2 linked regions of the Homo sapiens genome follow. The protein of the gene in region 1 interacts with the protein of each later gene in a biochemical or structural test. Each region holds a gene or a part of one and is shown on either strand. Other genes may lie near its edges.

Region 1 (3,119 bases):
CTGGATCCCGGTAGCTTGATATTGAAAATGCCACTTTGGGTACCTGAAGGATGTGTTTGGAGGACATCATCACAGTCTAAAAAAAAAATTAAGCTGGTTGGAAGAAGTTATTCTCATTTAACTTTACAAAGATAGGCACGGCTCAGATTAAATAAGGCAAATACTGTTTCTTTCCCTTCCTTTCTTTCTTCCTCCTTTCCTTCCCTCCATAGGGAAAGGATGCACTTACAGTGGGATAGAACTTATGCAAATAAGCGGTTATTTATACCTACAAATTGCAAAGGGGATTTTCCTCAAATGTATTTGGAATTTTACTTGCACAAACTAATAGCAAGTAACCAGTACAGGTAGCTAAGCATCACTTAATACTAACACAACTTGTATTTAGCCTGACCTAAATGTCAACTGAGACACATACTAAAAATGTGATTAATCAGTTGGGTGACAATTCTAATAGCACACACTTTGAATAGTGAAAGAATTTGACTAAATAAGCTCAAATAGAGTTTCAGAGGAATTCATTCATCCATTTAACATGTATTTATTGAGTCATGGCTCTGTACTGTTAGGCATTTGGGAATACAGAGATGAGACAGACAAAGGCCCTGCCCCCAAGGAACTTACAGTCTAGCACAAAAACAGACCAAAAAAGTGTAGTTTCAATGACGTGTAACAGAGAGTTAAGAAGGAAATGCAAGGGGCCATGGGAACACTGTGCAGAAATATTTAACTTAGTCTAGGGGGACAGGGAAGGCTTCCCCAAAGGAGAAGTGTGGATACCTCTGACAGGGCGAGATTTAGCATGGCCTCTCTTGGTGCTATGTGTTCCTTCATGATCGGCTTCACTTCCGGCCTCATCTGCCATTTTATAGCTCTTGCTTTCAAATGTGGAGTCTCCTCTGTTGTAACTCGTGCTACTAGTAAATTGTTTGCTGTAACTTGAAGATTTACCACGGGAAGGGAATTCAGCTATCCCAGGGTGATGAGAACTGGATTCCTTTGTATTTGTGAAGATGCCAGATTCTGAGCCCCTAGACTCAGTCTCACTGACAAACTCTCCTAACATAGGTGAGAAGAAACCTGGGAATGTTTTTCCAGTTGAGGCAGTGTCGAAGAAGGCAGCTTCATCAGGGTGCCTATGGCGGAACCCATCCAGAGTACCTATGCCAGACAATGTGCCTAAATCCATTGCCTCGGGACAGTCAGAACCATCTTCGGAGGTCACCACTTCTTTGGTAACTTCTTTGTGACCATCAGGACCAATAACAGTCTTAGTAACGGTTTTAGAGCATGAACGACGCGTGGTGGTTGTGCTACCAGAGGTGACCTTCTCTTTACCAGTCCTGAGCTCTTTATCTCCTTTAGAAGTGACCAGTTTTTCTGTGTGGTACTCTCTCCTTGTCCCTGGACTTACATTTCCTGACACCTCTTCAAATGTGCCCCAGTCTGGGTTGTTAGGCCTCGCGTTCCCAGAGCCTGGGCTATCTGGCCTAAAACTTCCAGATTCAGAGTGCCATTGTCCAGTACTACCAGATACAGAGCTCTCAGAGGTCCAGTGCCCAGCACTTCCGCGTTCAGAGCTGCCAGGATTCCAGGTTCCGGTACTACCAGGTCTAGGGCTCCCAGGGTTTTGGTTTCCAGTACTTCCAGTTCCAGAGCTCCCAGAGTTCCAGCTTCCAGTACTTCCAGGTCCAGAGCTCCCAGGTTTCCAGGTTGCAGTCCCTCCAGTCCCAGAGCTCCCAGGGTTTCGGTTTCCAGTACTTCCAGGTCCAGAGCTCCCAGAGTTCCAGCTTCCAGCACTGCTAGGGTTCCTGGGGCTTTCCGTCTCTGATCCGGTTCCATAAGAGGTGGAGCCTCCTCGAGTAATCTCATTTCCACCAGGTCTCTCTAACTCCATTCTCATCTGCGGCATGTCTGTTAATGCCTTCCACTCTGGGGGTACCTTCTGAAGCTGGCTCTTAAAATTTCCGGGAACCAAGTCTGGAACTGGTTTCATTTTTATCAGTGGTAAGTGTTGCCTATCTCTAGAGGGAAGTAAGTCTTTGGCAATGACCTGTTCAAGTTGCTTCTGCTGATCTTCATAGTCCTTCAGATCTACTTCACGAGCTAAAGCCCTACTGCATGACCCTCGACAAGATCGGATCTTAATATCAATGTCCACCTAGAGAGAGGGGAGAAAAATAAAGAGAAAATGTAGATACAAATACATAAACTACGTCTATTGAGTTCCTGGTAGTTAATTTTCCTTCTGGAAACTGGTTTCATTTTTTTTGACTCGGAGACCTACCACTTAATATTCTCTGTTTTCTGCCTATCGAGCACCCTCAGTGGAAGAGATGTTGGGTATTGCAGGGCTAGCCAGGATAAGCAATGGATGCTGTTTAATTCATCTTAGCCTCAGAATGGATCAAGAGTAAGGTGCTATTCCCTCTCAAAGGAAACGCTAATTAAATGATCCTTGGTGAAACTCAGGCTGAGGGCTCAGAGGTGTGGTGATGTAATGGGCTTTGGAATTAGACAGGGACTGAACATTTGCTTTTGAAATTTACTATCTATGTACCGTTGGAAAATTTACTTAATATCTCTGAATTTTTTTTCTTCAACTGTGGAGTGAGGAAAATAATACCTACTTTTAGGTAGATGATGGATATAACACTTTTCTCTGCATATAGTAGACACTCAGTGCATAACTATCGCCTTCCTTTTCCCTCTACTCAGAAACAAGGACATCTGGGACCACAGCCACATACTTACCTCCAGTCGTTTCATATCAACCAACTGAGCTCTAACATTTTTCTGCAGAAGCTGGATATGCTGTACTTTTTCTATGACTTTGCGCTTCAGGACTTCAATTCTGCTTCTCAGATCCTCTGACACTCGGTTGTAGGTATTATCACGGTCTGAAATCGAAAATATGGTTATTGAAGTAGCTGCTGAGTGATTTGTCTGTAATTGCCAGCAAAAAAGAAAGGAAGAAAGGAAGGAAGGAGAAAGAAAGAAAGAAAGAAAGAAAGAAAGAAAGAAAGAAAGAAAGAAAGAAAGAAAGAGAAAAAAGAAAGAAAGAAACTAGCTTGTAAATATGCCTAATTTTATTTTGGTTACAGTTTAATCTGTGAGTT
Region 2 (3,751 bases), on another chromosome or scaffold:
CGGCGGAAACGGTCTGCAGCCCCCAACTGATTAAACACAGTGTTTCCACGTGACCCAGGAACTCCCCTCCCATGTAAACCCCTAAGAGAAGAGAAAACATTTCTATACAAAAACTCAGACACGAATGCTCACAGCAGCACCGCTCACCACAGCCGAAAAAGAGAGAATCCACCCAAATGTCCATCAAGAGAGGAGTGGACACGCCAGGTGAACATGGTCCATCCGTGCGATGACACGAAACGAAATGAAACAAGAAGAGGAATGAAGCCCTCACTGAACCCGAGAACCCTGTGCTCCGCGAAGGAGGCCAGACAGAGGAGGCCACACGTCGTATGACCCTCTTAATATGAAACGCCCAGAACAGGCAAATCCAGATAGACTGGGGGTGGGACGCTGCTCGTCGAGGGCTGCGGGGTGAGGAACGGTGACCGCCTGCTCATGGTACGGGGCTCCTTTTTGGGGTCAGCAGGACATTCTGGATTTAGACAGTGGTGATGGTTGCACACCATTGTGGATATACTAAAAACCACGGAACTGTACGCTTTTAAATGGTAAATTTTGTGGTACATGAATTATACCTTAATAAAGAAAGAATAATCAGAAAAATGCAAGCGCTGTCCAGGCCCGCTAGCAGTGCGGGTTCACTGCTCTGATGCTGGAGGCCCGGCCGACGGCGCTATTCCTGTATTTATTTGCTGATTAAATCTAGTTTTTCTTGCTTTATTTGTTTGTGGAGAAACTCTGGAAAGCCTGGGGCTGTAGAACTGGTGAGAACGTGGTTTTGTTGGGGCCGGAGCCCCGAACCTCACTCACAGCTCCCCCAGTCCCAGCATTCCTATGCAGCCAGGCTGAGTGATTCCAGGGGTCTCTCCTGGCTGCAGGGCAGGCTCCCCGTGGGATCAGAAGGCAGGTTCGGCAGGGCGCTTCCCAGCGGAGTGAACAGGAGGGTGGCCGGTCCCGGCTGCCCTTTCTTAGCTGAACAAGCTGAGGTTCGGAGAGGAAACGGGGTGGGTGCCAGGCCGACCTGGCCCCCACCACACCCCACGCACCCGGCAGGTCCCGGCTGGTCTGGTTCCAACGCCCCGATCACCTGCCTGCCCCCTCCTTCCCGCGCCCCCTCACCCCACTGCCAACGCTGGGTCATTATTGTAAGAACGAACGATCAAGGAAAGACCAGCTGCAATCCTGTCTCGTGCTGATACAGATTAGTCGGCAGCCCACAGTCGGACGAGGCAGCCCCCACCGGGGCAGGAGCTCCATTTCAGGAGGAAAATCTTCATCTGAGCGCTCATTGGCTGGAGGCTTAAAATTCGTCTGCTGTTAACAGCCTCCCGTCCTCGCCTAAGCCGGTTTCAGATGGTATCGTGTTAAAAGAGAAAGGCATTTCTCGGGCCCACAGCCATTTCTCTTTGCAGATCCAAATCGGGTATTAAAGGGGCCTCCCGGGCGGGGTTAGGAGGGCTTGGAGCTGTGTGACCTCAGGCAAGTGCCTCCCTGCTCTGTGCCCAGCCCCTCGCCCGGGAAGCGGGGGTCCCAGCAACGCCGGCATCACGGGCTGGGAATTACACAAAGAAGCCACGGGAGGCAGCTGTCCAGGTAACGAAGGCTGCCCTGCACTTGGAGTGGGGGCTTTCTGGGAGGAAGGAGCGTGAGTCCTTTTCCATTTTAGTAATAATAAAAGACACAAACAGCAAGGAGAAAGCCAGGGTAGCGGACAAACCCAGGAGAGATCCTGCCTCCTCCAGTCACCAGGAAATGGCATCACGGTTGGCCTCCCGGAGAGCGCAGACAGGCAAGAGTGTGGCTCCTGGCAAGGACGAAGATGGCTCCTTCACCCTGCGGCTCAAGCGTCTCCCACCATTCCTTTCGCTGACTGTGTCGGGGCTGACCCAGCAGGAGGAGCGTTTTGCAAGGCGGACGTCTGCCATCTGCCACCTTGGACAGCTGTGCCCTGGACAGCTGCGGGCCCGGCGGACACTGTTACTTAGGGCAGCGGCTCTGGGTGCCCGAACTGGGTCCATCGCTGGAAACGTGTCTCCTGCAACCTGCATTTAAGCTGGACGCAGCACTGGAGAGAGTCCTGAGGACCGCCCTGCCCAGCCCAGGCCACCGTGGCAGGAAAAAAGGCGAAGCGGATGATGGCAAAGCCCTTCTGTCCAGGCTGTGTCGGGCTGAGTGGCTTCCGGAGCTGCTGAGGACCTGGGCCTGGTCCTGGGGGCGCTCACCTTGCAGAAATGCAAAGCTGTGCACGGATGACCTGTGCACCTCTGGGACGTTTGCAACGTGCAGACGGTAACTTACGTGAGAAGTAGGGGAGTGTGTTCTGTGAGCGTTTGGGGCTTAGAAGATGTGGGCTCTGACTGCGGCCCGGCCCCTACACAGCTGTGCGGTGCTGGGGTCCTAATTGCCCTCTCTGAACCTGAGCTCCACAATCCCTACGTGGGGCAGGGGGCTGCCTGGGGCTCAGCCTCCTGCTTCTCCCTCCCAGAGCCCACCTTCCCCGAGCACTGGCCTTGGCCACCTCTCGCCCCCTCACCTTGTTCCTGGCTGATGGGATTTTCCCTTTTCTGATTGACCCCACGGGAGGGTCACTCAGGCCACGGGAGGCCGAGGGGGTGTCTGCAGTGGGCTCAGCCCTCCAATGTGCTCTGGGCTCCAGCAGGGCTTCCGAGACCACCTGGCATCCGTGGTTGGGAGGCCGAGGGGGTGTCTGCAGTGGGCTCAGCCCTCCAATGTGCTCTGGGCTCCAGCAGGGCCTCCGAGATGACCTGGCATCCTTGGTCGGAAGGCCGAGGGGGTGTCTACAGTGGGCTCAGCCCTCTGATGTGCCCTCGGCTCTGGCAGGGCCTCCGAGATGACCTGGCATCCTTGGTCGGGAGGCCGAGGGGGTGTCTACAGTGGGCTCAGCCCTCTGATGTGCCCTCGGCTCCGGCAGGGCCTCCGAGATGACCTGGCATCCTTGGTCGGGAGGCCGAGGGGGTGTCTACAGTGGGCTCAGCCCTCTGATGTGCCCTTGGCTCCGGCAGGGCCTCTGAGGTCACCTGGCATCTGTGGTTGGGAGACACATGCAAAGCAAAGTGGAGCAAACGAATCTGAACAGATTTTGTTCTCTAGGAGAGGAATCCGGGCTCCTGGGCCCCTGCTGCTTGAGAGAAAGTCAAATGCTCACAGAGGCTTCTGGAAGAAATCGGACTGACAGGGCAGCGCGGCTGGAGTGGCAGCAGTGGGGTTCCAGGGGCTGCGTTCAGGGGCGCCTGACAATGCTGGGCCTGGCTGCTCTGGGAGATTCAAGGACTCGTCTGTCCAGGCAGGGACATGGAACTGTTGGGGCCTCTGGTGGCCGAGGAAGTCTTGGATTTCAGGGGAGAAACTTGCGCTGCCCTGGAAAACGCAACTAATATCCAGAACCAGGAGTGGCCAGGGAAGCTGCTGGAGCGCTTAATAAAGTGCTGGCTCCAGGGAGACGTGAGAAGGGATTCCAGCAACGGCACCAAAGGTGGTCGATGGCCGCCTTGCAGCACAGAGCTCAGGGGCACTCCGGTGACCACCGTCCCTGGCCTGCTGAGGACCTGGGGATTCCAAGTGTCAGCCAACATGGGACATAGAGGTGACTTAATTCACCTGCTTGGACTAATAATCAACTCAGTCTTTTTTTTTTTTGAGACGGGGTCTCACTCTGTCACCCAGGCTGGAGTGCAGTGGTGCCCGATCATAGCTCACTGCAGCCTAGACCTGCTGGGCTCAAGCCATC

The links. The genes of interacting proteins can lie anywhere in the genome.
Region 2: of the proteins of FGA (region 1) and FAM20C, one has a biochemical effect on the other in vitro, tested with the Homo sapiens proteins (2 studies listed by IntAct).

Annotation. Positions count from the first base shown.
Region 1 is NC_000004.12:154,584,758-154,587,876, forward strand, and holds the end of FGA (fibrinogen alpha chain isoform alpha precursor), read right to left. Parts: intron 2,901-3,119; coding exon 2,755-2,900; intron 2,162-2,754; coding exon 737-2,161; 3' UTR 518-736; downstream 1-517. UniProt on the Homo sapiens protein: Cleaved by the protease thrombin to yield monomers which, together with fibrinogen beta (FGB) and fibrinogen gamma (FGG), polymerize to form an insoluble fibrin matrix. Fibrin has a major function in hemostasis as one of the primary components of blood clots.
Region 2 is NC_000007.14:251,429-255,179, reverse strand, and holds part of FAM20C (extracellular serine/threonine protein kinase FAM20C precursor), read right to left. Parts: intron 3,049-3,751; exon of another isoform or gene 2,537-3,048; intron 1-2,536. UniProt on the Homo sapiens protein: Golgi serine/threonine protein kinase that phosphorylates secretory pathway proteins within Ser-x-Glu/pSer motifs and plays a key role in biomineralization of bones and teeth.